4 linked regions of the Homo sapiens genome follow. The protein of the gene in region 3 interacts with the protein of the main gene of each other region in a biochemical or structural test. Each region holds a gene or a part of one and is shown on either strand. Other genes may lie near its edges.

Region 1 (5,225 bases), on a different chromosome or scaffold from region 3:
GGTACCCATAGGGACTCCCAAGCAGCATAAAACTAGAATGAAAGCCCTGCGTGTGTGCTGACTGTGGAGACATCAGGAAGGGGGAGCTGGGACATTGTGTCCCAGGCAGAGCTAAATGTGGGGGAGAAGGGCCTTTTGGACCAGCGTGGGTGGTAGCCCCAGGGTGGGAGAAGAATTCAGCCCAGGTCAGAGGTAGCCTGTGGGGGTCCTCAGATATGTGCAGCTGCTCCACCAGCTCTGTAGCTAAAGGACCTCCCAGACTTCCTAAAGGGTGGAAACTGCATGAAACCCAACGAGATGAGAGAAGTTCATGGGGAGGGGCGAACGCCTTCCATCGGAGTGGGGGCTGCAGAACCATACTCAGGCCTCTATGGGATTCTAGAGGCCTAGTGTGAGGTTTTATTCAGTAATAAGCCAGATGTATGCCAGGCGTGCCCAGGTTCCCACAGTCTGGCCTGATGGAAAGAGGGGTAGCAGAGAATACAAAAACTAAGTCAGGGTGAGGGGATTGCACAGTTTATTTCCAAACACTCAGAGGATAGGGGGTGGCCTATGGGCTCCATCTGCCTCCCCTCCCTGCATTTGGCTGAATCAAGAACTTCTCCCCCCTGACCCCCAAGACCCTAGGCTGTGCCCAATAGAGAAGGCACTGTCACCCCCCACCCTGAGGAGACCTAGACAGGTGAGGAGCATGGAGGGTGGGGGAACAGAGTTCAAGTATTCACAGTTCCCCCATCTACACCCCTGGATTACACTGTGCCAGAGCCATGAGGGAGGATCCCACCTCTGGGATTCCTAGTGGTGTTGATAGTCCTTCTCCCACTTAGAACCCTCCAGATGAACTCCCTACTCCTTTTCCCTGATATAACAAACCAAGTCCTAAGCCCTGTAGTCTGGGCAAGGAGGAGCCTTAGCAGGCCACTCACCCAAGGCCCCCAGGGATGGGGGTGAGAGCCTTCACCTGTAGTGAATGGGTTGGGAGCAAGTGTCTATAAGGAGAGAGGAAGGGAGAGAACTGAGAGGACCTTGGGAGGCAGGCTTGGAGGCTTCTGACACGTGAGTTCAGACAGCTCTGGTCTGCGACTCCACCCCACCCCACACCCCAAGCCCAGAATCCCTGAGAGTCCAACTGCAAAGGCAGTATGGCCGGAGGGAGGAATGGGAGCAGGGGTAGAGTTGAGCAGGACCTTGGCCCCCCTCTCCTAGTAGGTCCTGCTCCTGGGACACATGCTTAGGGACGGCCAGGACCAGGCTCAGGTCCTAGTCCCATCTCTTAGGGTGCTGATCTTCCAGAATAGCTGAATCCTGGGGAACATAGACCCACCAATCCCCACACCCCAGACGTCCTGGCCTCAGGTAGAATGGTGGGAATGGGCTCTCACAAGGGTATTATAAAAAGCTAAAACCGTTAAACACTTTCTGGGGAGAAGTGGCTCCCAGTCTCTTGCCTCCCCAAGTTATCAGTCTCCCCAGCGCCTAGCAGACAGGGCTAAGGAGGTCCCAGAGAGCTGAGGGAGGAGACGGCCACAGCCCCTGGGCCCAGAGAGAGGGCCCACTAGCACCATGCAATGTTGAGGTGCCTCTGCAGCCTGACTGGCCCCCACGCAGGGGCCCTCCGAAGCTGGAGTGCACACTTGCTAAAGCTTCTGTACTCTTGAGGGGGGACCCCTGCAAGGGAACAGAGAAGGCAAAGACTTCGCTTAAGTCCAGGCAGGGGTCTGAACCGGGACCCCAAAGGGCACCCTTGGGAGTCATGATTTGAAGAATCTTCGTACCACAAACTGGCCCAACAGAACCACACCCAGAACCACCAGCACGTTCAGGATGGGACCATTGCCCAAGTTCAGGGCTGCCACCTGCCGGGAGAAACAAGGTGGTCACAGAGAGGCTAGCAGAAGATATAGGAACCCGAGGAAGGGGTGGGGCCTGGGAGAGGGGCAGCCCCAACAGCAGGGAGGACATTGCAGTCCTTGGATACTCACCCAGCCACCCCTCTGTGCAATCCACCGGGCAATGCAGTGATGCAGCATGAAGTCGACCACGAAGCGGGTCACCTGGCCTAGGAAGCCAGTCAGGCCATGCTGGTAGACGTGTAGGGCCAGACGGTAGCCGAAGCCCAGAAGAGCCACCACACGGCCCCAATTGATGCCACTCTCAAACAGGCTGTGGGCAGAGCATCCCATAGCATTGGTGGAGAGCCCCCAGGAAGCCCTTCAGCCTGCCTGGCCTCTCCCACCCCTCTCCCAGCTGGAAGCTAAATAGCTTAGCTGTGAATTAAGGCCGCAGAGGCTGCCCCAACCTGGCCTGTATTTGGGAACAACCTGGGTCTCTGCGAAAGGAGAAAGCTCAGGGGCAGATGAGCTGGATGCCACTGCTGGGGTGTACGCTCAGGTGCAACGGGGCACAGAGAGGGCAGAGGGCAGAGCAAGTGGATGGAGTCAGCGGGGAGATTACCTGTGGGTGTTGCTGCTGGCCTGGCAGCCCGAGGGACAGCAGAGAGAAAAGGACAGAAAAGATTAGGGTAGTTCCTGTCATCACAGTGGTATGAAGGCTGGCCTCTAAGTTCACGGACTGGATATTTCAGCTCTGAGCACTAATTCTAAAATCTATCACTTACTCCTACCTTCACCTCCAGTTTCAAATCTACTCCGACACTGACTTCCCTAACTCTGGTGGTAGCAATGGCTAACACTTTGTAAGGTGGACACTAATCTAAGCATATTTTCCCTATTTTACAAACCAGGAGACTAAGGGCTAGGAAGCTTCACGAAGGCAGTAAGTGGCAAAGCTTGGATTTGCACCCAAATATTCGGTGTCTTTAACCACTTGGATGCCAGATTATAGCAAGTAGGAGCCATTTCTAGGACCTGGCAGAGGTTAGCACCCTCACCATCTTCAGTGTGATATGTGGTTTCAAATTGGAACTATGAAGGACAGCTATGTCCCAGCTGGGCTGGGGAGCTGTGGGGGACGTCCCCACCTCAGGCCCCCTCTAGAGTCCTGATCTAACCAGTCAAGACCTTGGAGTCAGAGCTCAAAAGAGCTGTGAGCTAATGCCCAAAATACAAGTCTGGGACCCCGAAAGAGAAAAATAGGGGGCCGAGACCACATGTGAGTTCACAGCAGACATTGGACACTGACAGAAGGCTTCTCCCCATGCCAGGAGAGCATCATGCAGGCAGGGTATGGTATGGTTGTGACATGACAGAGGAGTGACTGGAGCTGGCAGGGAGGTGGCTGGGGTACCTGGTGGCAATCTTGGTGAAGTACTCATAGGCATTCTCTGCCGTGGGCTGCAGGTGCTGCAACATGGTCTGGAACTCTGAGTCATAGCGTCGGTTGATGTCGTCCCCGATGATGGCGAGCTGCCGTCCCACCTGCCCCATGGTGCTGTAGGAGCAGGAGGCATGCAGGTGAGCCAGTAACCAGGCAGTCGGGACCAGGCCCTGGCTCATGGCAGAGGGGTTCTGCCTGAGCTGTCCATGGCCCTGTGCATCCCTTCTTGGAGGTCCCTGACAGTGTTCTAAGACATGAGTGCTGGGCTCCAGGAGAAGGGGCAGGCATGGGCTAAAAAGGATACAAGGTCCTGGATGGGGGTGGGAGCCCAACATAAAAGAGGAGCAACCATGAGAGAAGGGCAAGACCCCCGAGGCCTCCCCAGCTCCCAGGACCTGCACAGAGACCCATGCGAGCTACTGCCTCCCTGAAGATGTCCTTGTGGGCCCAGCGGTTGTAGCTCACCTGCTAGGTTGCAGAGGTAAGGTGACCATCTCTGGGTCGGCAGGGGCAGCCACCCCTTCAGCCTCCTGTTCCTGCTGATGGCGGTAAAAAACGTAGCTGCGGAAAACCTCCTCTGTGTCCTGGGCTACCTGCTCCTCTGAGGATCAAAGCTGGGAGTCAGGGAGAGAGGGCCGAACCCTGGCAGCCCCATGCCTTATAGGGGATTCACTCTTCCTAAGGCCATAGCTGTCCTCACCCATGGAAAGAAATATCCCAACCAGGTGCGGTGGCTCACGCCTATAATCCCAGCACTTTGGGAGGCCGAGGTGGGCAGATCACCTGAGGTCGGGAGTTCAAGACCAGCCTGACCAACATGGAGAAACTCTGTCTCTACTAAAAATACAAAATTAGCCGGGTGTGGTGGCACATGCCTGTAATCCCACCTACTCAAGAAGAGGCTGAGGCAGGAGAATTACTTGACCCCGGGAGGCGGAGGTTGCGGTGAGCGGAGATCGTGCCACTGCACTCCAGCCTAGGCAACAAGAGCGAAACTCTGTCTCAAAAAAAAAAAAAAAATGGCCGGGTGTGGTGGCTCATGCCTGTAATCCCAGCACTTTGGGAGGCCAAGGCGGGCGGATCACGAGGTCAGGAGATTGAGACCATCCTGGCTAACATGGTGAAACCCCGTCTCTACTAAACAAAATACAAAAAATTAGCCAGGCGTGGTGGGAGGCGCCTGTAGTCCCAGCTACTCGGGAGGCTGAGGCAGGAGAATGGCGTGAACCCGGGAGTTGGAGCTTGCAGTGAGCCTAGATCACGCCACTGCACTCCAGCCTGGGCAATAGAGCGAGACTCCATCTCAAAAAACAAAACAAAACAAAACAACAACAACAAAAAAAACAAAAAAAAAAAAAAGAAAAGAAATATCCCTACTTCAGCACCTTAGCCGCCCCTAGAGCTTATGCTGTGTGGAGAGTTGTTCCGGCACTTGCATTGAGTCCTCACAGTAGCCCTGGGAGCAGGCAATCCCCAGCTGGCAGGGGGAAAATGGCACAGGGTGTCTGAGTAACGTGTGCAAGGTCATACAGCCAGAACAAGCCGGGGAACCGGGACAGTCCCGGGCATTTGGGGTCCTGAGTCTACATTAGTACATCTCAGCTCCGCAGCCCTTTGCGTGCAGGGAAATGTGGGAAACAAAATCTGAATTTGTAGCTGCGGCCCAGAAAAGTCACACAGGGAGATAGTGACAGACCTGGGACCTGATTCCCAAGTCCAGGGAACAGCCCGCCGTGAGGTGTGAGCTGGGGCTTCCCTGGCTATCCCCTGGGAAGAGGGAAGGAGGGCAGCCATCTTACTTCCTCCCCAAGTCACAATAATTGCGTTCCCTGTTGAGCAGACCTGACTGGGTGATTGGCCAGCTTACTTCCTTATTTCTCCCGCTGGAGGGATACAGCAGCCAGGCCCCACTCTAATTCCTGCCTCCCTCGCCCGTGACCCAGCCCTCT
Region 2 (7,038 bases), 8.6 Mb from region 3:
GACTTTGTTCTTAATTTCCACTAAAAAATTTTATCAGAGAATGTGTCTGTATAATTTCTACTTTATGAAACGTGGGGGTTTTTTTGGTGGCCTAATATATTTTTGTAACCATGAGTGTTTCATGCAAACATGCATTTTTGGTCTTGGGGATGTAAAACCATATATTATAAACATACCAATTATTAGGTATATTATTCAAATCTATGTCATATATCATAATCTCTTAGAGCATCTCTGGGAGGTGTACTGAGTCTTCCACTTCAGCTGTGGCTTTATTGGGATGTTATGTGGTAAAGCATCCATCAATGCTGTCCTGTGGAAGGCTCTACATTTAGGTTGTTTAAAAGTCATTATTTCTAGGCCAGGTGTGGTGGCTCACGCCTGTAATCCCAGCAATTTGGGAGGCCAAGGCGGATGGATCACTTGAGGTCAGGAATTCGAGATCAGCCTGGCCAACAAGGTGAAACCAAGTCTCTACTAAAATACAAAAATTAGTCGGGTGTGGTGGCAGGTGCCTGTAATCTCAGATACTTAGGAGGCTGAGGCAGAAGAATCTCTTGAACCCAGGAGGCAGAGGTTGCAGTGAGCCAAGATCGTGCCACTGCACTCCAGCCTGGATGACAGAGCGAGACTCCCTCTCTAAATAAATAAATAAATAAATAAATAAATCTGGAAAACATGGCATATGGAACCACATGTTCAGCAAGAATGCATCTTGCCCATGTGAACTGCCAAAAGTGAGGGCTGAAGACTAGTTGCCAAAGCTGTTAAAAGAGGGCTGGGCGTGGTGGCTCACGCCTTTAGGAGGCCGAGGCAGTCGGATCACCTGAGGTCACAAGTTCAAGACCAGCCTGGCCAACATGGCGAAACCCCGTCTCTACTAAAAATATAAAAAAATTAGCTGGGCGTGGTGGCACAGGTCTGTAATCCCAGCTACTCAGGAGGCTGAGGTATGAGAATTGCTTGAACCTGGGAGGCAGAGGTTGTGGTGAGCAGAGATTGTGCCAGTGCACTCCAGCCTGGGCAACAGAGCAAGATTCTGTCTCAAAAAAAAAAAGCTGTTAAAAGATCAGATGCAGACATTTGATGTCCCTCTGTCAGAGTGAGAGGGAAGACAGTAATCTCAACGTTCTGCTCAGAAGAGCATTTAAAATAGTCAGAAACTGGAAAAGTACGCCCCAGCCCCTAGTCAAAGGTGCACATGAAACGATAGCCCTGACGTATGGTAAGGCTGAAACTGTTTACATTACATTATATAAATTAGAATAATTTCAGATCAGTTTCCAAGCTGAGCCCACACACAACCTCATCTTGGTCTAAAACTTCAAAATGAACACACAAGAGGGACATCTTTAAAAAATAAATAGATAAAAAATAAAAAATAAATCTTAATTATAATCTGGGAATAGGAGTGAAAGTAGAGATAATCTCCAAAAGCCTCTTAAAGTTTAAAATACCAAAATCGGAGCCAGCTCTCATCCAGCAGGTGTGGCAGGTATCACTCGCCCTTGCCATGTTAGAGCTATGTGGTGTTATTTTACTGGATGAAGGAACCATAAAGCCTACTTAAAGGTCAACTTCTTAAAAATCTATTTCTGCTCCTTCCCCTGAATGCAGGAGCCCATGGCAGACTACAGCAGCAGGGATCAACAGCGAACAGACCTCCAGCATTGTCTTCAGCTCTCTCTAAGCTAAGCTAACACTTAATTCTCTAACAAGTAATTCTCGGTGACTCCTGCTAAGGACCCCTTGCTTTTGGAAAACTACAGAATTTTCCAAAAGGTACAGGGACATGTCTTAACCTACATGGTATGTCTGCTGGACTTGGTCAGGTCCCCATGACATTTAAGGGCCAGCCACTAGCCAGGCCATAGGCTGTTTATGAACACAGGTTAGGGAATCTATGATGAAGAGTCTTGTGTTTCCCAAAAGGAGGAATTCACTCTTGGATTGCATTTCCTGAGGCTTTATTTTTAGTCCAAACTTAATACCAACTTCCAAATGCCAGAGGGCAACCTCTGTAAGGCAATTGGCCTTACAGGATAGCATTTTCTTTACTCTCAACAGGAAATACAGAAGCCAAGACAGGTGCAAAGTTTGCCTCTTCTGTAATTCCTCTTATCAATGCCATTACGAAATCCCATGATCTATGGGAAACCTATGGTTAAGTCTGAAGGTTTTAAAAAGGCACAATCCCAGGCTGAGCATGGTAGCTCATTCCTGTAATCCCAACATTTGAGAGAATCACTTGAGCCCAGGAGTTTGAGACCAGCCAAGGCAATATAGTGAGACCTCATTTCCCCCAAAAAAATTTTTAAATTAGCCAGGTGTGGTGGTGCATGCCTGTATTCCCAGCTACTCGGGAGGCTGAGGCAAGAGGATCACTTGAACCTGGGAGGTCAAGGATCCAGTTAGCCATAATCATACCACTGCAGTCCAGCCTGGATGACAGAGCAAAATTTTGTTTTATAAAATAAAAAAATAAATAAGTCATGGTACCTCAGGGAACCCCAAGCTCCTCAGAATGGGTTAATTCTAAATCTGGCAATGGAGGCAGGAATGGAGCCATCCCAACAGCTGCTACCTGGCTCCTGGGCAAGGCCTCTGTCCATAGGTAAAGCCAGCTAATAAAGAGCCCAGCACAAATACAGTCCTACTAGGCTCCTGGGGAAGAGTGCTAACTGGTGTTATTTTAATGTACCAGAACCCCTGGGAAGGCACAGGCTGAGAATACAGTGCTGAGGAAGTGGGGTATTACACCCCAGATAGTGCTTATGCATTAGGCTCAGTCCCTCAAAACTTAGAATAGTGGAAACCGTTCTCATGGACCTGCCCAGTTATTTTGGTTCTAAGCTAGAATCAATCTGCTAGATGGTTTACCATGGCAACACAAGGTGAAGCAGAAACCCTGGGACAGGAGAGTCAAGCGCTGTGGCCAGGACACCTAAGGCTTAGAGGGTTTTCCAGTAGAACCTTTCCATATCTTCCTTTGTAAAAGCTAAGGGTAGGAGAGGTGTGTGGGAGAACCACAGCCAGCAACAAAGGGGGTCCTTTTTGCTAAAAGAGACTCAGCCAGTTGCTTTGTCAGGACAAGAGGGAAGGAGAGTAGGGATGGGCTAGTAAAGACAAACTTCACACTGACTGTGAAACTCAGACTCATCCTTGTCTAGTCCACTGTGGCTAAACGAACACTGCACCCCCTCCCTGTTTCCTACAGGCCATCACAATGGCCATAGGGTCCAGCCACAGCTCACCTCATGAGTTCCATGAGAGAAGTTCAGACGAGCCACATTCATTCCAGACTTAATCATCTCCTTCAACGTCTCCACTGATCGGGAAGCTGGGCCTATTAGGAAAAGTTTTAAAGCCACAAGTATTAATTATTCAAAGAAGGAAAAACATTTAAGTTTGCTTAAGTTTAAAGAATTTTTTTCCCTGAAAACTTTTCCTCTCCCAAATAGCTCAAAAGTCTTTAAAAAGTGCATGGAAGGCTACTACCGTGCCAGCTTACTTTCTTGATCTACTGGGACACTTCGACCATTTCCTTCAAGTTCTGCAGGCTCCCACTGTATCAGAAAAGCCTAGGTTAAGACTTGGCCAGCCTTCTCCACCCTCACTGAAACCCAGCCAGATGTCCAACCACAGAATCTTGGTAGCACAGAACATGTTAGAAAGATCTTTCCTAGGTCTTTAAGTTGCTCCTACAAAGACCTGCTAAGGAAAACATCTTCTAAATTTTGCCTATAGCATAAAACCTAAACCATATGGATTCTTTTTGCAACAAATTATTTTTTATTATAAACTGGTAATTTATAATTTGGGTTACAAAGTTATGTAATCCAATACATACAGTTTGGATACAATGTGGAATAATTAAATCAGGTTAGTTAACATATCCATGACTTCAAATACTTAACATTTTTGTGGTGAGAACATTTGAAATTTACTCTTAGCGATGTTTTTTTCTTTTTTCTTCCTTTTTTTTTTGAGGCAGAGTTTCGTTCTTGTTGCCAAGGCTGGAGTGCAATGGTCAGATCTCAGCTCACTGCAACCTCCGCCTCCCAGGTTCAAGCAATTCTCCTGCCTCAGCCTCCCAAGTAGCTGGGATTATAGGTACCCGCCACCACCCCCGGCTAATTTTTTTGTATTTTTAGTAGAGATGGGATTTCACCATGTTGGCCAGGCTGGTCTCGAACTCCTGACCTCAGGTGATCCACCTGCCTCAGCCTCCCGAAGTGCTGGATTACAGGCATGTGCCACTGCGCCCGGACAATTTTTTTTTCTTAAGACAGGATCTCGCTCTGTTGCCTAGACTGGAGTGCAGTGGTGTGATCATGGCTCACTGCAACTTCAATCTCCTGGACTCAAGTGATCTTTGTCTCAGCCTCCCATGTAGCCAGAACTACAGGTGCATGCCACCATGCCCAGCTAATTTTTTTTTTTTTTTTTTCACTTTTTGGAGAGACAGGGTCTAAGTTGCTCAGGCTGGTCTCAAATTTCGAGGCTCAGGCAATCCTCCCACGTTGGCCTCCCAAAGTGCTGGGAGCCACCATACCTCGCCATCTTAGCAATTTTGAAATGTCTAATACTCTCTTATTAACTGTATTTGCCATCCTATGCACATACTAATTCTTTACTGCAACTTCCTATGACCTGAGTCCTTTCATAAGAATCTGTGTAGTATCCCATGTAGCACCTAGGTTTGTTAGGACATTTAGTTACTCTTTTCAGGAGAGAAAGGTCACTGCCCATGAAGCCCTTTTTTGGGGGAAGGGGCACACCCACTCACCAATGGTACAGATGATGCCAGTGTTCCGGGCTGTGATGGGTGGTGAATCAATGTCCAGGCGGCACATGTGCTCCAGGAATGTGTCAGCCATGGCTGCGTGCAGCTGCTGGGTCTGAATGAAGGCAGTCCCGGCTTCACTATGGGGCTTCGACATGGCTGCTGAGGTCCTGGGTCGAGACAAATTGAAAGAGAGTGGTAAGACTGAGAAGTGGTTAATATACCATTTAGCACAGAAGGCTGTCTCCTGCTTACACATTAACTCAATAAGCACGCTTTGTACACAAGCCACAGGGAAGCCAGACATGATCTGGTTATGTGGGTGCTCCTCATGTTAGAAAAAGGGTTCACCAGATTGTGAACAATGGAAAGGACCTTACTGAACAAGTTAAAACCTCCCACCCACTCCACATAGTCCCAAGCACCCACAGTAAGCAGGTCTCTCTTACACTGGGCTGACTGACATCTACCTAGACAGCTTTCTCACCACCCTATCTATAAATAACATCATTTAACATGCACTGAAGGAGCTTCCAATGAAGGAAGTTGTAACCAATCTTCCAGTGATACAAACAACTGACTCCTAGCTTAGTGCCTTGATAAGCCTAGATCTCTGCATGTCAAGCTGTCACAAAGCTACAAATAGCTGCTTTGTCGTGGGGCACCCATATTGCCTCTTTACAATCCTCACCCAAACCCAAAGTCATTCCCCTGAATGCAAAAGCTTCCATCCCAGGAGTCTAAACCTAAAACCACATCTACTGTTGGCCAGAAGGATGTCAGGACACGCAAAGCAATTTGCAATTTGCAAAGCAAGGATAACATAAGGGCACTGGTATAATTCTGAAATTATCACAACTACATTAACAGGATAGTTGCAAACATAGAGAAATTAAAGTTGCTGGTCAAATCTTTTCCCCAAATGATTTTTGATACACATCCTGATTTCTTTTCTAAGCCTGACAAGTATACCACCACTCTGTAACACAGACCATCAGTTCCAGGTAATTAACTAGCCCAGGTCACAACCCTGACAATGGCCCCAACCTTTGCTTTCTTCATTAATGACTTACAACTAAACTCACTCAGCCTGTTAGTTAGCTGATTAGAGACAAAAACTCAGGAGAAGCTTCCAGGCAGTGTTTGAATAACTATCAGGTAAGGATGTGAACCAGACCAGGCAGTGTTTGAAGAACTATCAGGTAAGGATGTGAACCAGAAGCTTGCTACACGTCTCATCAGAAAGCTGTTTCCTTGAGTTCTCAGACCAAGGGCTACTCTTTCTAAAACGCTTGAGCCTAAATGCTTCGGCCAAGCAAGGCTCAGGAACAAGCTCCTCTTTAGCCCTTCCCCACCTCATCCTAAATCTCAAAGTTCCAAATCAAGGCATCTCACACATATGACCCTTACTCCTTTACCCTGTTCCATCTCTGACTTTGTGGGCTCTCTGGGTGGCTCGAGTAGAGTATACATCTAAATCCATCTCTGCCATCTCCAAAGAAGGCCCGCTGAGGTCCAAGGAGCTCTGAAGGCAGTAGTGAACAGTCTGTTGGCTATGGAAAACTGATGGCCACAAGTCCTCAACCACAGATTCTAAAACTTTTAAAATGGGGAAATAAGATACCGGCTAACGGTTCAACATGGCAAATGCACTCTTCATTTCGATGTGTATTTCCTAAGCCCCTAATATCTACTACGTACCAAAATGAAAAAATCAATCCTCCCTTCCAGGACCTATATGGTTTTGTATCTCCTAGCACCTAGTATGTGGAAGCATTCCAGTGTTTGTTAAATGACCTTTCAGTCTCTCTGAATGCCTCTTTGTCAGAATCAAAGTTATGCCTCTGCTCCCCCTTCCCTAAATCTGAGGAACTTCTGCATTACTGACAGGAAAGCCTGGGGCCCCTGGTCCCTTTCCCTACACTCATGGTTGAGGGAGGGCTCGCATACCTTCAGAGCTCCCAGCTGGGCTTAGGGAAGTCTGGCTGTTAAGGGAACATTACTGAGAGATGGCACATCAGGCCAACTGGAACACAAAGGCTTTGCTGTGGCCTCCAATGGGCCTACAATCTAGGGACTGTATTGTGAACAAAATAAGATCTGAATAAGTGGGTTGGAGTAACTAATTCCACTCTTTTTAAAAACCATCAGCTGGCTCTTCTTAGACCTGAGATATGAGGGTCTTCCTGTAAAGACCTGGCTGGGGCCACTGAATATCAGGTCATACCTTTGGTTCTCTGGGGTTGGGCTTC
Region 3 (7,038 bases):
AAATTTTTAAGAAGGGAAACTAAGAAAAAAGTAAATCTGCCATTTTTGGTATTAATATAGCAATAAACTTTACATAAACTTCACTGAAAACTGGATCTTCAAAGACCAATGCTTTTAAAAATTTTTTTTTTTAATTTTTTTTTAAATTTTAAAGAGACAGTGTCTTGCTCTGTCACCTAGGCTGGAGTGCAGTGGTGTGATCACAGCTCACTGCAGCCCCAAACTCCTGGGCTCAAGCAATCCTCCCACCTCAGCCTCCCAAGTAGCTGGGACTACAGGCATGTGCTACCACACCTGGCTATTTATTTCTATTTTTTGTAGAGACAGGGTCTTGCTATGTTGTCTAGGCTGGTCTCAAACTCCTGGCCTCAAGCAATCCTCTTGCCTTGGCCTCCCAAAGTGTTAGGATTACAGGCATAAGCCACTGCATCTGGCCAACTGGTACATTTATCTGCCCAAGTTGCTCTCCTGCTCTCCCAAGTCTGATCTGTCTCAACAGCCTCAGGAAGCCCAAGCTGAACAGCATACCCTGGAGTAACTACTGCTACTCTTCAGCTGTGTACACATGACCTAGACTAAATGAGATAATAAATGGGGAAATTGTTTGTAAACTATAAGGTGCTATACAATCTTACAATATGATTTTAGAACACTATTTTCCAGAAAATGCATGTTAACTTAGCTTTTGTAACATAAATGATAGGTTAAAAGCAAAGTTTTCCTTTTATCTGTGTATTAAGAACTGTGTGGCAGAAGTTAAACCACACAATATTCCTTCCAAGGGCGTGCAGCACCCTAGTCTGGGCCAACCAGCTGGCTCACGAAAAAGACCATTCTAACCAATACTAACAAGACCAATACTAACACCAAAGCCTATTCAAACTTCTGACAAGCTCAAGAATGAATCTGAACATCCAAAACCAATGGATCTCTTATAATTACTGTGTAATATATTTTTACTATATTTTCTGTTACCTAATTTTAAGAAACCTATTCAACAACTAGTATATTTACAATGAAAGGCAAACTTATCCATTTCCTGCCTGACCTGCACCACTTCTTCTCCTTGTAAGGCCTCGATCTGCCTGGGCCGCCGCTGCCTGTCGCTGTTCCCATGGCCAAGTTTACCATAGTCACCATCTCCCCAGCTAAAGACCTCACCACTTTCAGTTAGGGCCATAGAGTGCCCATCAGAACCACAGGAAGTCACCAGCTGGGTCACCACAAAGCCTGGAACAGAACAGAAACCCAACAGGAGTCACTGGATGTTAAAACTCTCCTCTTTACTTGCAGCTGCTACTGAATACCCTCAATCAAAAACCACCGAATTGGTACTATGAAAATAAGAATAATTTCATTAGTTTTTTTTTTTTTTTTAGATGGAGTCTCACTCTGTCATCCAGGCTGGAGTGCAGTGGTGTGATCTCGGCTCACTGCAACCTCCACCTCCCCGGTTCAAGTGATTCTCTTGCCTCAGCCTCCTGAGTAGCTGGGATTACAGGCATGTGCCACCATATCTGGCTAATTTTTGTATTTTTAACAGAGACAGGGTTTTACCATGCTGGCCAGGCTGGTCATGAACTCCTGACCTCAAGTGATCCGCCCACCTCGGCCTCCCAAAGCGCTGGGTTTACAGGCATGAGCCACAGTAACCGGCCTAATTTCTTTAGTTTTAAATTGAATTTGTAGCCATAACCTAGCAAAACTGCGAATAGTCACCTAAAATAATGGTGATGACAAGGAAAACGAGGATGACAGCAATAGTTACAGTCATTAATGACTGGCTATGCTCTAGCCACTCCTATAAATGCTTTACATGGATTATCTCATTTTCTACTTTCACATAGCACCTATGAAACAGATACTAACATCCCATTTTTACAAGTGGGAAAACTGAGTCACAAAGAGGTCTCGAAGCTTGTGCAATGTCCCAGAGCCAAGGACCAGTAGAACCCATAGGAACCCAGCACACATTCTCATCTTTACTGCTGTGCTCTTCACACTCAGATCACAATGAAAAGAACCTGAGCTTCTAGGAACTTGTTTTGAACTCATAGTTACTTGTATGCTTTTACCTAAAAAAACCGTCGGTGCTCTCTTTGTAGGCTTCAGAGTCATTATGAGTTCAGTTAATGAGCAAGCCGGGGGCTTGTACAGTGGTTTCTCCAAAGGTGTTCTCTCTCCAAGTCACAAAGAACTCTGATGAAGATGTCCTTTAAAGTCTTTAGCACATTTGCAGATTTCCATATAAACTGATTTTTAATTTTAATGAAATACATGCATGATTGCTACTGCTATTAACATCTGCCTACTTACACTTTTGCAATTTTTAAGCATTTGTTTACAATCTTCAGTGGGTCTCAAAAAGTGTTATTTATATTTCACTGAATTCTAGCATTGCTATAAGTAACCTGCAATATAGCTTAAAATATGGAAATTAAGGCTGCACACATGCCTAAATAAGGATTTAAATGTAAGTGAAAACCTGATATGATTTTATCTAGCAAAGGTTTGAGAAGGGCAAAGGTTTGTACGACCAAACCTACATTAGGCCTTAGGTTCTAACCATCTTTTTATTAAGGACAATTTTACCTTGTAAGGCTGAAATAACTGTCAGCACATGAAGGTCATCTGAATTTCCTTGTCCTAATCTGCCATAACTTCCTTCCCCACAAGCCAACACTGTGCCATTGGCCTGGATGACAAAGGTACAATTCTGACCACAAATGACCTAGTATAAAAACACAGAATTAAATATTTTATTCTTTATTATATTGCTTTAACATGCAAGCACTTGAAATGATTCCACGTATACATAGAATGCTTTTATAATTGTTTTATCCTTTTACTGAAAGGGAAGAGTTGATATAACTATGCAGTCCCGTAACTCCTTGATGACTATAAAACTGCTTATTTAACCAAGAGATGTATGAGATTCATCCATTTAAAATAGTTTAGAACAACAAAATGGATGAAAGAAAAAGGAAGGGGTGATGGGGAAACATTAAAGACTGGGCTAGAAAGAAGCAGAAACTCGTACATAAGAATGAGTCATGCAATCTGGACTAGCTGAGGTAAAGAAGAGCAAAAGAGAAAGCAGAGGCCTCGAGAAGGGTTTGGCGCTATATCGTACCAGGATTATTAGAAAAGGGGAGTGGTCGATAAAATCTGGCTAAAGATCCTAGGAAGTTTTTAGCCCCAAAGAGAAAATCACTAATTAGGAGTATCTAAACTGCTAGAAATACATACTGGGCAGGCCTAACACATCATGATGTTAGTTCATTAAACTTGAAAGAAAAATTTAGAAATTTGTTAACTTCTTAAGTCTGATAAAAACCACACCAAGTTTTTATTTGAAAGCTATATATCATGACTTTCTTTAATGATTCCTCATAATAGATTATGAAATGGACAAGCTTTATCCCACAATAAGACAAGCAAAAGAATTAGAATTTTCAGTTCCCATGTTTCTTTTCTATTTTTTATCCTGTTAGTTACCTGTTGGGCCTGTGAGAATGAGGGAGCTGCTGCAGGTACCATTACATTTCTTCCAGCTTCTGCCAGCTGTCCATGCCTACCAGCACCCCATAAGTAGACATCACATTTACCTCCCAGGTGCCAGTCCTAGAAAACCACAATCATCTCAAAATTAGAGTCATCCATTCACTCAAACAGCCATGTACTACGTACCAAGTGTGTGCCAGCCTGTATGGGAGACACCAGGGCACAAACACACAAGCATTTAGAATCAAAACATTGACTGAGAACCATCATACAGTTATCTTCATCTTTACTGACCTCAGGTCTGGAAGTTGCCCAAGACATAATTTGTTCATCCATGCCGTTAATCCATTTACTGTTATCCTGAAAAACAGGGGGTACATAATGATCAATTCTGCTTAGGCAAGATGCACCTGCTCTTAACCACAAAGTCCTCTTCTAATCATTAAGTCTTATTTCCAAAAAAGAATATGGTAATATTATGATAAATTAAGAGCAGTTTTATAATTATGTCAAACTTGATTTTATGCACTGTCAGTATTTCCCTTTATTATAAACACTTTCACTATCACTATCACTATGGCATTGGTGATTCAAAGCTAGCCATGTGTTTTCTGAACACCCACAGGTACAAGGTCATGTGGAGGACCCCACACCCCTGTAAACTCTTTGTGTAGCTGTGGGCAAATTACTTCATCTTTCTGGGCTTCAGCTTCCTCATCTACAAAATTACAGAGTTGGGCCAAATGGGCTTAGAAGGACATTTTCTGATTAAAATATTGTATACTTTTGTGCCACGTGACATTTCAGTCAACAACAAACTGCATGTGTGAAGATGGTCTCTTAAGATTATAAAACCTTATTTTTATTATATCTTCTATGTTTACATACACAAATACTTATCACTGTTACAAATGCCTAGAGCATTGAATACAGTCATATTCTGTACAGGTTTGTAGCCTAGGAGTAATCAGACTATACCGTATAGTCTTGTTGCAAGTAGGCTGTATCATCTAGGTTTGTGTAAGTACTATACACTCTATGATATTCCCAGCGTCAAGATTGCCTAACAATGCATTTCTCAGAACATATCCCCATCATTAAGTGATGCATAGCTACAGTTACATAATTTTACTTAATTTATATTTGTCTGTTTCATATTGTATCAATGTTTATCCAAATGTTTGTATACATAAATCTTAAGTATACAAAGAGGTTGTTAGATCATGTGCTGTCCTGTAGTCTAAACAGGTATTTTATCTATGTCACAGTTTCTAGAGTAGACACTCTCAAATACAAACAGAATGAAATGACAATTAGAATGCTCTTCTATATTTTATTTGATGCTAATTAAAGACATGATTGAAATGCCAAATAAATTAGAATCTATATGTGGCATATAACCCACAAGATGACCAGGAAAAGATGCTAAGATATATACAACTAAAGCACTAACAAAGTACCTATGGACAAAAGAAAATGAGAAAATATGGGACTATGTCATTGAGAGGTGGCAGGTTTACAAGAGTTCAACAGTGCTTACATTATCAATTCCTGTCACTATGGAGGCCTGCCATCAGATTGAAAGTGACTATCTGAAAGAAAAATATTTTCCATTTCTCTTAAGGGTATCCTTCTAGCCATGCATACCAGCAAAGACTTATTAGGGGTCTGCTACATGCCCAATACCCATGATAAAATCTCAGCTGCAAATAATAGCAGCTCACAGTACATTTACCATTAGAAATACAAGTTCATCCTCTGGAACAGGTTCTAGATCTGGAACGGTAAAAGATTCTGGAAACTGGGCTCCATTGGTCAGGGCTTCGGCAGCTTTTATAGTGGTTGAGAAACATTCTAACCAGGCCCATTCATTTGGATTCCAGGATGCAGGGTCAGGGAGACAGTTCTGGTGGTGTGGTGGCACTGGAGGGTTACACAACAGCTGATCCAGATGAAGTCCCACAGCAAGGGAAGCCAAGCATTGCATATAGGGGCTATGAACAAGTTGGTCACCACAAACCACATGAGGCTAAAACAAAATACAAGGATATAATATGTCAAAGAGTTTGTGCCAAATATTCTAAATTAACCTACCGTAGTCTGAAAGTCTGGAATCATATTTTTCAAGTTTACTGTTTAAGCTTTTTGCTAGGAAATAATTTTAGATTTAGAGTGAGTTGTACAGATAGTACCGAGGATTTCTGTATACCCTTCGCCCAACTTTATCCAATGTTAACATCTTATACAACCCTGGCACATTTATCAAAACTAACAAACTAACATTGGTACAATACTAACTAAACCACAGAACTTTATTTGGTTTTCCTCAGTTTTCCCATTAATACTCCTTTTCTGCTCCAGGATCCAATCTAAGCTATCACACTGCATATAGTACATTTTCATCATGGTTTTTCTTGATTGGAAAAAAAAGCAGGTAACTATTTAACCACAGAGATCTGCTCTTCTCACTTTCCTCCTTTATAAGAGAATCCTGGTAGCCATCAAAGGAAAAGCAAAAAGCTGGAAGACAGGCTACTTTAGGATCACTGTCTGGACAAGTTCAAACGCTGCAATTCCTCATTCCAGTATTTAATGACCCTACTCAATTCAACATAGCTCTTCCACTAAATTTTCCACAAAGATTTATCTAATAAGTGGAGACGATATTCAGTCTGATACCCGCATCCATCCCTATCCCTCAACTTTGGAATGGCCAAGCCATATAAAAATAGATATATGTGTGGGTCAGAAAAGGGAAGATATTCTGCTGCATAGGTATTTTAAGAAGCTTTGGAGTGAATAAATAATCTGAAAAGCAGTAATACAAACTTGGTGTTTGTTTCTTTATTTTACTCTGGTGAAAATAAAGCAAGAATAGGCTTAGGGTTGCTGAACAACTCTTTTAGGCATGACTTACCTTCATTTGATTCTGCCCAAATAGCCCCACTTATTATCCTCAGACCTCATGCTTTTAAGGGATAAGTTCAAGGCTATAATCACATTCCAAAGCACCAGGTATCTGTGTATCTCTAGGAGTGAGTGTAATGAGTTACCTTTTCATAGGCATACTGCTCCTGAAGCATCATGGGGAGCCGCTCCAAAAATGCTCTCATGCAGGGAGCCATGTTCAATCCCAGAACACCCTGCTGTTTCAATGCTGTCCTACAGGTTGCCAAAACATGATTGGCAGCTGCCCATTCTGCTGTACAATTCACGACCAAAACATCCTGGTTGAAAATAAATCATGCCACATAATAAATTTGTTTAAATAAAAAATAATGCTATCACCATTTAATCTGCGAAATTCCTTCTAGTAACTGGGACATCTTTGCTTTTTGGATATTTTATATCCAAAAAGGCTATGCTTTTAATGCCTATGGAACTTCAAAATATCCTAAATTTTGTCTAAGTAAAAAATAATGAGAAATAATAAAATTTGTGAACTACCTCTGATTAGCTGGTACTTTTTAAGGAAAAAATGTCAATAATTAACTATTTCTTCAGAACCTGCAGAATAAGGCATCTACTATATTT
Region 4 (7,758 bases), on a different chromosome or scaffold from region 3:
TGGCCCGGCTCGCTGCTCAGCGTGGTCAGCGTGTGCGCCTGTGGCTGCTGCGGGGGTGCCGCCGGCTGCTGTGGGGGCGCCGCCTGCGGCTGCGGGGGCGCCTGCGGGGCCGGCGGGGCCTGTGGGGGCTGCTGCGGGGGTGGCGGCGGCGCCTGCTGCTTGGACATCCACACGTGGCCCGCGCTCGCCGGGGTGGCCGCGGTGCTGCTGATGCCGTAGCTGCCCGTGTAGGTGACCTGGCCGTGCGTGGCCGGCACCCCCGGGTGGCCGTTGGGCGGCAGGTACTGGTCAAACTCGTTGACATCGAAGGTCTCGATGTTGGAGATGACGTCGCTGCTCAGCTCGCCGATGTCCACGTCGCGGAAGTCGATAGGGGGCTGTCTGCCCCCCTCTGGCAAGGGGCGCCCCTCTCGCTTCAGGTCAGCCTTGCCCGGCTGCACGTCGGTTTTGGGGGTGGTGGGTGGGGTCGGTGGGCCCTGGGATTGCCCTGTGGACAATAAAAGAACAAGCACGAGAAAATCAACAAGGGCTGTGCAGACGCCCTAGTCTTAGGCACCCTCCGGGGACCCTCCCTCGCTGCTAAAGTGTAATAAGGGCCCGCACCCGCGCAAGAGGCGCGCTGCACCGGAGATAAGTCGCCCAATGATTAACCCGCCGGTACACACTGGACAGCCCCCTTTTATCAGGGGAGGGTCTGGGGCCCGGAGGGTCCGGAAGACCTAATTGCTACTTGTGTAAGAGCCCTGTGTGTGCTTTTGGGGTGGGGGAGCAGAGAAGAAGGGAGAGGTCTTGTAAGGCTGTTAAGGGCATTTTACCTCCCAATAAAAAAGTTAATCTCTTCGGATGCTGGGATTGAGTTGGGGTGTGTGTGTTTGTGTGTGTGTTGTTTGGATGCCTCTTAGGCTCTGGGTAGAGAGGGGAGCGGGACGGGCGCAAAGGGCAGTGTGTCCCTCCCGGGAAGCATAAAGTCCCCACGAAGAATCTCCCAGGCGGAGGGCAGGGGGTGTGCCAGGCGGGACGGAGATAGCTTGTCCGGTGGGGTCGAGGGGCGACTCACCCGAGTGCTCGCCGGGGGAGTGCACCTCGCTCATGCCGGAGGAGGAGTGTGGCGAGTCGGCCTGCAGCGCCTTGAAGATGGCGTTGGGGGAGATGTGCGTCTGCTCCGTGGCCTCCTCTGCCTCCGCCTGCCCGTTCTTCACCGACTTCCTCCGCCGCGGCTGGTACTTGTAATCCGGGTGGTCCTTCTTGTGCTGCACGCGCAGCCGCTCCGCCTCCTCCACGAAGGGCCGCTTCTCGCTCTCGTTCAGAAGTCTGCTCGGGGCGGGGCGGGGGGCACAGAGAAAAAGAGGGAGAGGGGTCAGTGAAATCCGCCAAACTGTCAGGTCGGCGGGGAGGAGGCGGCGACCCAGACCACTCGGCTTCCTCTGCACACAACTCCATCTTCCCTCCTGCCTGCAACCACAGCTCATAACTTTTCTTAAAAATAAATAAATAAATAAGTTATTGCAGTCTGACCTGAGCGGTCACTCCCCGCCCCCTCCCTCCCCTCCCCTTCTATTTCTATTTTGGAAACGCTGGAGATGAAAACGACTCCCGGTGCTGCCCCCTAAACGCCTTTGCTGCTCGACTTACCGCCCCCAACCCCAACCCCCTTTGAAAACTTTCCCCCAAATTACTTAAGCTGCAAGAAGGTCCCCAATTCTCACCCCCCACCATACACTCCCACCTATTTCCAGTAGCCTCCCTCCTCCCGCCTCCCAGTTCCTGCCAAGGGTCTCCTCCAACCTCGGTTTCTCCCTTGCCCCATCTCCGTGGACAGTGGGGCTGCACGAGAGAGTGCAGTTTTAAGAGGCCGGGTAGGAGGGAGGCAAGTTTCACTTCCCCGCCCCGATTGAGCTTCCAGGCGACTGGAGAGCAGGCTGGCAGCCCCCTCCTTCCGTCTCCCACCAGTCTTCGTCCATCCTCCAGCTACCTCCCTCACCTCTTCCACTTACCACCCCCCTCCTCCGCGTCCCCGCGAGCAGCCCAAGAACTTTGTCAAACTCTGAGCCACAGTTACACCCCATTCCCACTCCCAACCCCATCCCGCCGGCTCCCGGAACGGCAACTCCCGGGCGATGGGAGGCGGGGCGGGGCAAATCAGCCCTGACCAGCGCCCCCAGCCGCCGCGATGCCCACCCTGCCGCGCCGCCCCCGCCGGGTCCTACCTCCAGAGCTTGCCCAGCGTCTTGCTGAGCTCGGCGTTGTGCAAGTGCGGGTACTGGTCCGCGAGCTTCCTGCGCGCCGCCTGCGCCCACACCATGAAGGCGTTCATGGGCCGCTTGACGTGCGGCTTGTTCTTGCTGGAGCCGTTGACGCGCACCGGCATGGGCACCAGCGTCCAGTCGTAGCCTTTGAGCACCTGGCTGACCGCCTCGCGGATGCACACGGGGAACTTGTCCTCCTCGCTCTCCTTCTTCAGATCGGGCTCGCCCTTGGGGAACGTGTTCTCCTGGGGCCGCGTGTTCTCGGTGTCCGAGCCGGAGCCCGACGGGCAGGGCGAGCCCGCGGAGTCCTCGGACATGGTGGGGCTGGGGGCGCCGGACAGGCCCTTCTCCTGCTCGTCGGTCATCTTCATGAAGGGGTCCAGGAGATTCATACGCGGGCCCGGGGCAGGGGGCTGGTGGCCGGGAAAGGCGAGAAGCCGCGGCGGCTCGGGGACTCGAGGCGCGGGCTCCTCTCCCCTCGGCTGCCCGGATGCGGAGCAAGCGGCTCCCGGGGAAGCTGGCGCGTCGGCCGGCTACCGCGGCGAGCACTTAGGAAGGCGCGGGGTGGCCAGTTCACAGCTGCCCGCTCCAAGTGGGGGGAGGCGAATTGGAGAGGAGGAGGAGGGGAGGAAAAAGAGCAAAAGTGGGGGCGCTTGCACCCCTTCTCTTCTCCTCCTGCAAAGAAAAGTTTCCGGGGTTGAAACTGGCGAGTCTCCGCGCCACTGAAGTTTCCAGTCAGTTTCGAGCTCCGCTTTCGGCTCTCCAACTCCCAGCCCAGGGTCTCTTTAATAAATACTCCGCCTCACCTTAGAGCCACCCGCCAATCACAGCACAGCAGTCCCAGGGTTGGCAGGCAGCTGATTGGACCCGATTTTGGGGAGGGAGGAGGATTGTGGCACTGGGCTGGGTGACGAGGCGGGAGGGGAGGAGAGGGGAGGGGATCGCAGCCAAAGGGCGGACGGTAGGGTGGGGGGGCGGGGGGTGCTGCGGGGAAGGCGGGGGACCCGGGACTTCCAAGTGTGTAAGTTTGTCGTACTCTCGGAATGCCAGAATTTTAGTGCCTTCTCCGCGCGAATCTTGTGTGTGTGTGTGTGTGTGTGCGCGCAAGTGTGTGTGTCTAGACTAGGATCTACCCCCACCTCCGACATTTCTTTTCACTGCTCTCTCCGCGGCACCGGGGACTTAGCTGGAGTTTGCAGTATTCGAAAAGCAGCCGCTTCTTAATGCGTAGCCGAGTTTACGCGCCTGGAGCGAGCCTGCCTGCCTGCAAAAGTGCTTAGAAATAGTCTTTTGAAGCAAATGTTTTGGTGACTCAACGCCCGCTGTTCCTCCGTAATAATCCATATAAATAGATTAACATGCTCGGGTTCGCCGGGGCTGGTGCGGCTGGTCAGGATTCTGCTGCGCTTTTGCAAAGGGAGTCAATGGAAAGCAAAGCTAAGTCCCCGCGAAGGTTGGCAGCGGCGGCCGTGGCCACGCAGGAGCCCGGCGCTCTCGAGGCCGCCCCGCGCCACATCGACCTTGAGCTCTGACAAGTCATTCTCCAGCCCCCTCTACCCGCGACCCTGCCGACGCTCCTCAGTAACAGGGCTACTGCTCTGACGTTTTGGTCTTTGCCTCCTGGCCGGGTCAAAAACGTCAGCCGAGTCGCCCTGTCTGGGGGAGAGTTTGCTAACTGCTCTGGCTTTGAGAGATAGAAGTTTGCCAATGCGGCTGTCCCGGGCCGCGAGGCCCAGGCCGGTCACTTGGTTTGTAAAAGACCAAACAAATGGGCACCACCGCAGACAAAACGCTCCACTCTGGCGGAGTCATGCTGCTTGCCTGCTTTTGCTGGCATTTACGAAACACCTGAAGGGGTGAAGCGCCGGTGCTTCTGACTCTAGTCCGGTCGGTTCAGACCTGCATGTAGTTGGGAGTTCTGGGGGAGGCATTGGTGGTGTCTCTCATGTATTTCAAGTGTGATTTGAGCACAACCTTTGTGTTTACACGAAATGCTTAGAGCCAGGTTGGGTAAGTGCGGAGCTATCTGCTCTGGGATAGAAGAAAAGTCTTGGTCGCTTGCGGGTTCTGTGCTTTCAGAATCCCAAATAAACGCACAGCATTGGGAAACTCTTAATTTTAAACTCCCCCCCCCCCCCCACCCTTTTGGGCTCTTGCAAAAATTCGCCTCAATTAAATTATTGTTGTGGTGAATCGGCCCACATCATAATAAAAACTAGTTTTTTTTTCCCTTTCTAATTTGCGAAGTGAGGACACTATCACAAGATCCAAATCAATGTCCTTCCGGGAGAATTTCTTAAAATCTTGTTTTCTCTCGTTGTCTTCGGAAGAAGCCCGACATTTCTTATAGGAAATGGAACTCTTCATAAGGTAGTAAGTTACAGCCTTGTTCAACAGCATTTTTTTTTTAACGAATGTAACTTCTTCAAATGGGATGTTTCTGGTGCCCTATAGCTCGTTTACAAATTTAAGAGATTTGCATACAATAGCTTCGTATCCAGGGCTCTGTGATTACTTTCAGAAAGTGTAAGAACAGCATCGTCCTTTCCTAGGAGAAAAAAGTCCGCGTAGTGTGGACCTATTTCTGTGTCCCGGGTAGAAGGGCATTGTGTGTACAGTATAACTGTGTAATTCTCAGACACCTGATTCAGGAGACTCGGAGACCATCGGGCAGACATTTTAGCCAGGTCGTCTGTACTTAGTTGTATGATATTGTAATTACCATGTTTGCTGGAATAAAGTCAGTGAAGAGGGCTATGACTTTAAGATATTTTGGAATATTTCACTAAATATATGTCAAGATATATACGTATATGTATAAATATACTTTTAATGCAATTATGCAATAAGATACTAATATGTAGAGTTTTACATCATAAACGACGGGGATTTATACATTTCCCGTTGATTTGATGCAAGCATTTTTGAATTTTACATCTTCCTGAAAACTTATGAACAGGCGACTTAAAAATGGACTGCAGTTTTCATCTGTATCCAGAGGGGGCGCCAAAAGCCCAGAAACTGTTTCCAACTCCGAGAACCAGGGAAAACTTGGATGGTGGTGGCTGGGGGTGGTGTGTTCCAGTCAATCTGGACTGCTTTGCTGCTGAGATTTATATTTGCAGGAATTCCTACGCGATATTCCCTCCTGTGCGGATCCACCTCTGCGCAGCTCAGTGAGGGAACTTGTGTCTGTAGAGATCCGGGTGAAAAAAGAGCACTTGAGATGCCAGCCGTTCTATTCTGCGCAGAATTTGGGGACTGAGGCCAGGAGAAGGCCCCTATCCCCCAGGTGCCAAGCGTTGCCACCGTCAGGCCAAGTCTAGCGCGTGGCATTGTCAGCTCGCGAGTGGATCGGTCCTGCATTTCTGCAGGGGCCTCCTGGTGTCCACTCCCCTTTCCCCATTCAGGGGCTCCATTCGCTTCGTTGTGTCTTTCTCAGGTCGCCCCGACCCCTCCTCCCTGACCTGGGAAGACGCGCGCAGTCCCCGACCAGAGGACCTCAGACACAGGTAGAAGGAAAGGAACCCGCTCCTGATGTTCAGGTTACAGATCTGGAAACTAAGGCTGTTGACCCAGTGTTGGCTAGAGCATTTTGCCAGGGGCGAAAGGAGCCAGGGTCCTCCATCTGATGCGGTGAGGGAGGGAAAGGGCGCAGGTCACGAGGCAGGAGACGGAGGGCGCTTCTCCGTGTTCGGGACGTGCTTTCGGATACCCGCTCTTGAGCAAGCGCCGCGAGGTCTGCCGCCGGGAGCGGAGACACAGAGGTGCGAGTGGCTCCCCAGGGAAGCCCTCGGGAAACCGAGGTCTGGGATCTCCCCCTTTCCCCCTCTTGCACGTCCCGGACCGGCGCCGGGCTCAATTTCCCCAGCGGGGGCCGCCAATCTCTCCTCCGCGTCTACGCGGGAGCTGAGACCGGAGCCCAGAGTTGCTGGCGCAGGGCGAGTTTCTCGCAAACACTCAGTGCTCAGGATGGGGGTGAGGGATGCGAGCTGATGGGGTTCCTTTTACCTGGCGAATTAAGGACCACAACCTCCCTATCCAAACTTCCTTAGCAAAAGTGGGGACGGTGTTTAAATCCGTTTTCGGTAGGGACGCTTTTCTGTCCCTAGGGAAAGTTTGGTGGGGTGAGCAGCGGCGTCCCCCAAATATCTCAGCCCCGGACAATGTTCTCATTAGAGGTGATGGGAGAAGGGGTTACCCCTTGTCTATTCCAGTTCCCCAGGCCGGGTCCCTTGCAGGTAGAAGACTCCTATCCCTGGAGGGACAGGTCCCCGTGTCGCGGGCTCCCAGCCGCTCCTGTAATTAGTACATTTCGCTGGGCTTGGAGAGTGTTTATCGTCCGCTCTTCACGCCGGACACGAGTTTCTTGTGGAAGGGAGCGGCCGGTAAGCCCGTCTCTGGACTGGCGCTGGGCTGGACAGCAACAGCTAAGGGGAAAAGGAAAGTACCAGATAGCGTCGTAGGTGCGCAATAAATATCTGTTGACTGATCGAATAGATGTCACCTGTGGACGTGTTGCCCGAGTGAGTGCATGTCCCATCACAGCCGCCAGACCTCCCAGCGACAGTTGCGAACACGCGATGCTTGTGCATTCCTGCGTGTGTATTTCTCCCCACACGGGAGCCCGACTTTGGGAAGTTGACCGGCATGTGCCACTCAGGGCTGTGGAATCCCGACTCCGCTAAAACTGCAGACCAAGAGGCCCGTTTCAGTTTTCTTCCCTTTCCTGTTTTCGAAAAAAAGAAAGATGAGGTGGACGGGAGGTGTCGGGTGAGGGGGCGCGAACCTCCAATCTGCCCTGGTGACCTGGCCGGGTCTGGGGGCGTCGGGCGGCTGTAACACAGCAGGGCGCCCCGGGGGTACGGACCGGAGCCCAAGTCAGAGACCAGACCAGCTGGCTTGTCGTGGAGCTGCGGAGCCGATCAGGGAAAAAGGAGGGGTGGGAGTGGAAGGCCCCAGTCCCAAAGGGACAGCGCTCCCAAAGGGAGCGTGCTCTTTTTTCATTCTGGGTTTTGCGAAAATATCTGTCCTTAGCTGTGGCACCGGGGAGCCGCGCGTCATGCGGCTTCCCTCAACTCATCCCTAGAACGCCCTGCGGAAAATTTCCTAGGCCATCTCTTCCCCCTAACGCCCACTCCCACTATTTTAAAAAGTCTTTCAGGCATTTTTAGCTGAAGGTGATTTTGCCTTGGTGATTTAAAAGTAAAGATACAGTAAGCGCTCAACGCAGTGGTGCCTCCTTTGCGACATACTCGGCCGGGGCCACTTCGGCCCCAAGAGCTTCCTCCGCACGAGCAACTGCTCCTCCCCTTCGATCACCTTTCAGTTTAGGTCTATGCAGTCTCAGGTACCGACCAAAGAGGGCTGAGATTCTCAGGATGGTTTTGTGGGGTTTCCCTAGGGGAGGGCAGGCTCAATGGCGATGATTGCATCTCAGCCTGGAGGGATTCTAACCAGCGCTTCCCTCTAAGAGATCCCATTGGGTGGGTGATTATTCCGGATCTTAATC

Evidence for each region.
Region 1: the proteins of HERC1 (region 3) and BAK1 interact in a test that uses a peptide from one of them, tested with the Homo sapiens proteins (one study listed by BioGRID).
Region 2: the proteins of HERC1 (region 3) and PKM form a complex in vitro, tested with the Homo sapiens proteins (one study listed by BioGRID).
Region 4: of the proteins of HERC1 (region 3) and SOX9, one has a biochemical effect on the other in vitro, tested with the Homo sapiens proteins (one study listed by BioGRID).

The regions. Positions count from the first base shown.
Region 1 is NC_000006.12:33,572,052-33,577,276, forward strand, and holds the end of BAK1 (bcl-2 homologous antagonist/killer), read right to left. Parts: intron 3,878-5,225; coding exon 3,742-3,877; intron 3,391-3,741; coding exon 3,247-3,390; intron 2,475-3,246; coding exon of another isoform or gene 2,264-2,474; exon of another isoform or gene 2,170-2,263; intron 2,164-2,169; coding exon 1,983-2,163; intron 1,857-1,982; coding exon 1,752-1,856; 3' UTR 501-1,751; downstream 1-500. UniProt on the Homo sapiens protein: Plays a role in the mitochondrial apoptotic process. Upon arrival of cell death signals, promotes mitochondrial outer membrane (MOM) permeabilization by oligomerizing to form pores within the MOM.
Region 2 is NC_000015.10:72,214,155-72,221,192, forward strand, and holds part of PKM (pyruvate kinase PKM), read right to left. Parts: coding exon of another isoform or gene 7,014-7,038; intron 4,957-7,013; coding exon of another isoform or gene 4,944-4,956; coding exon 4,790-4,943; intron 3,347-4,789; coding exon 3,255-3,346; intron 1-3,254. UniProt on the Homo sapiens protein: Catalyzes the final rate-limiting step of glycolysis by mediating the transfer of a phosphoryl group from phosphoenolpyruvate (PEP) to ADP, generating ATP.
Region 3 is NC_000015.10:63,634,913-63,641,950, forward strand, and holds part of HERC1 (probable E3 ubiquitin-protein ligase HERC1), read right to left. Parts: intron 6,732-7,038; coding exon 6,558-6,731; intron 5,534-6,557; coding exon 5,240-5,533; intron 3,865-5,239; coding exon 3,799-3,864; intron 3,625-3,798; coding exon 3,499-3,624; intron 2,732-3,498; coding exon 2,593-2,731; intron 1,231-2,592; coding exon 1,049-1,230; intron 1-1,048. UniProt on the Homo sapiens protein: Involved in membrane trafficking via some guanine nucleotide exchange factor (GEF) activity and its ability to bind clathrin. Acts as a GEF for Arf and Rab, by exchanging bound GDP for free GTP.
Region 4 is NC_000017.11:72,116,272-72,124,029, reverse strand, and holds the start of SOX9 (transcription factor SOX-9), read right to left. Parts: upstream 3,011-7,758; 5' UTR 2,639-3,010; coding exon 2,208-2,638; intron 1,312-2,207; coding exon 1,058-1,311; intron 488-1,057; coding exon 1-487. UniProt on the Homo sapiens protein: Transcription factor that plays a key role in chondrocytes differentiation and skeletal development.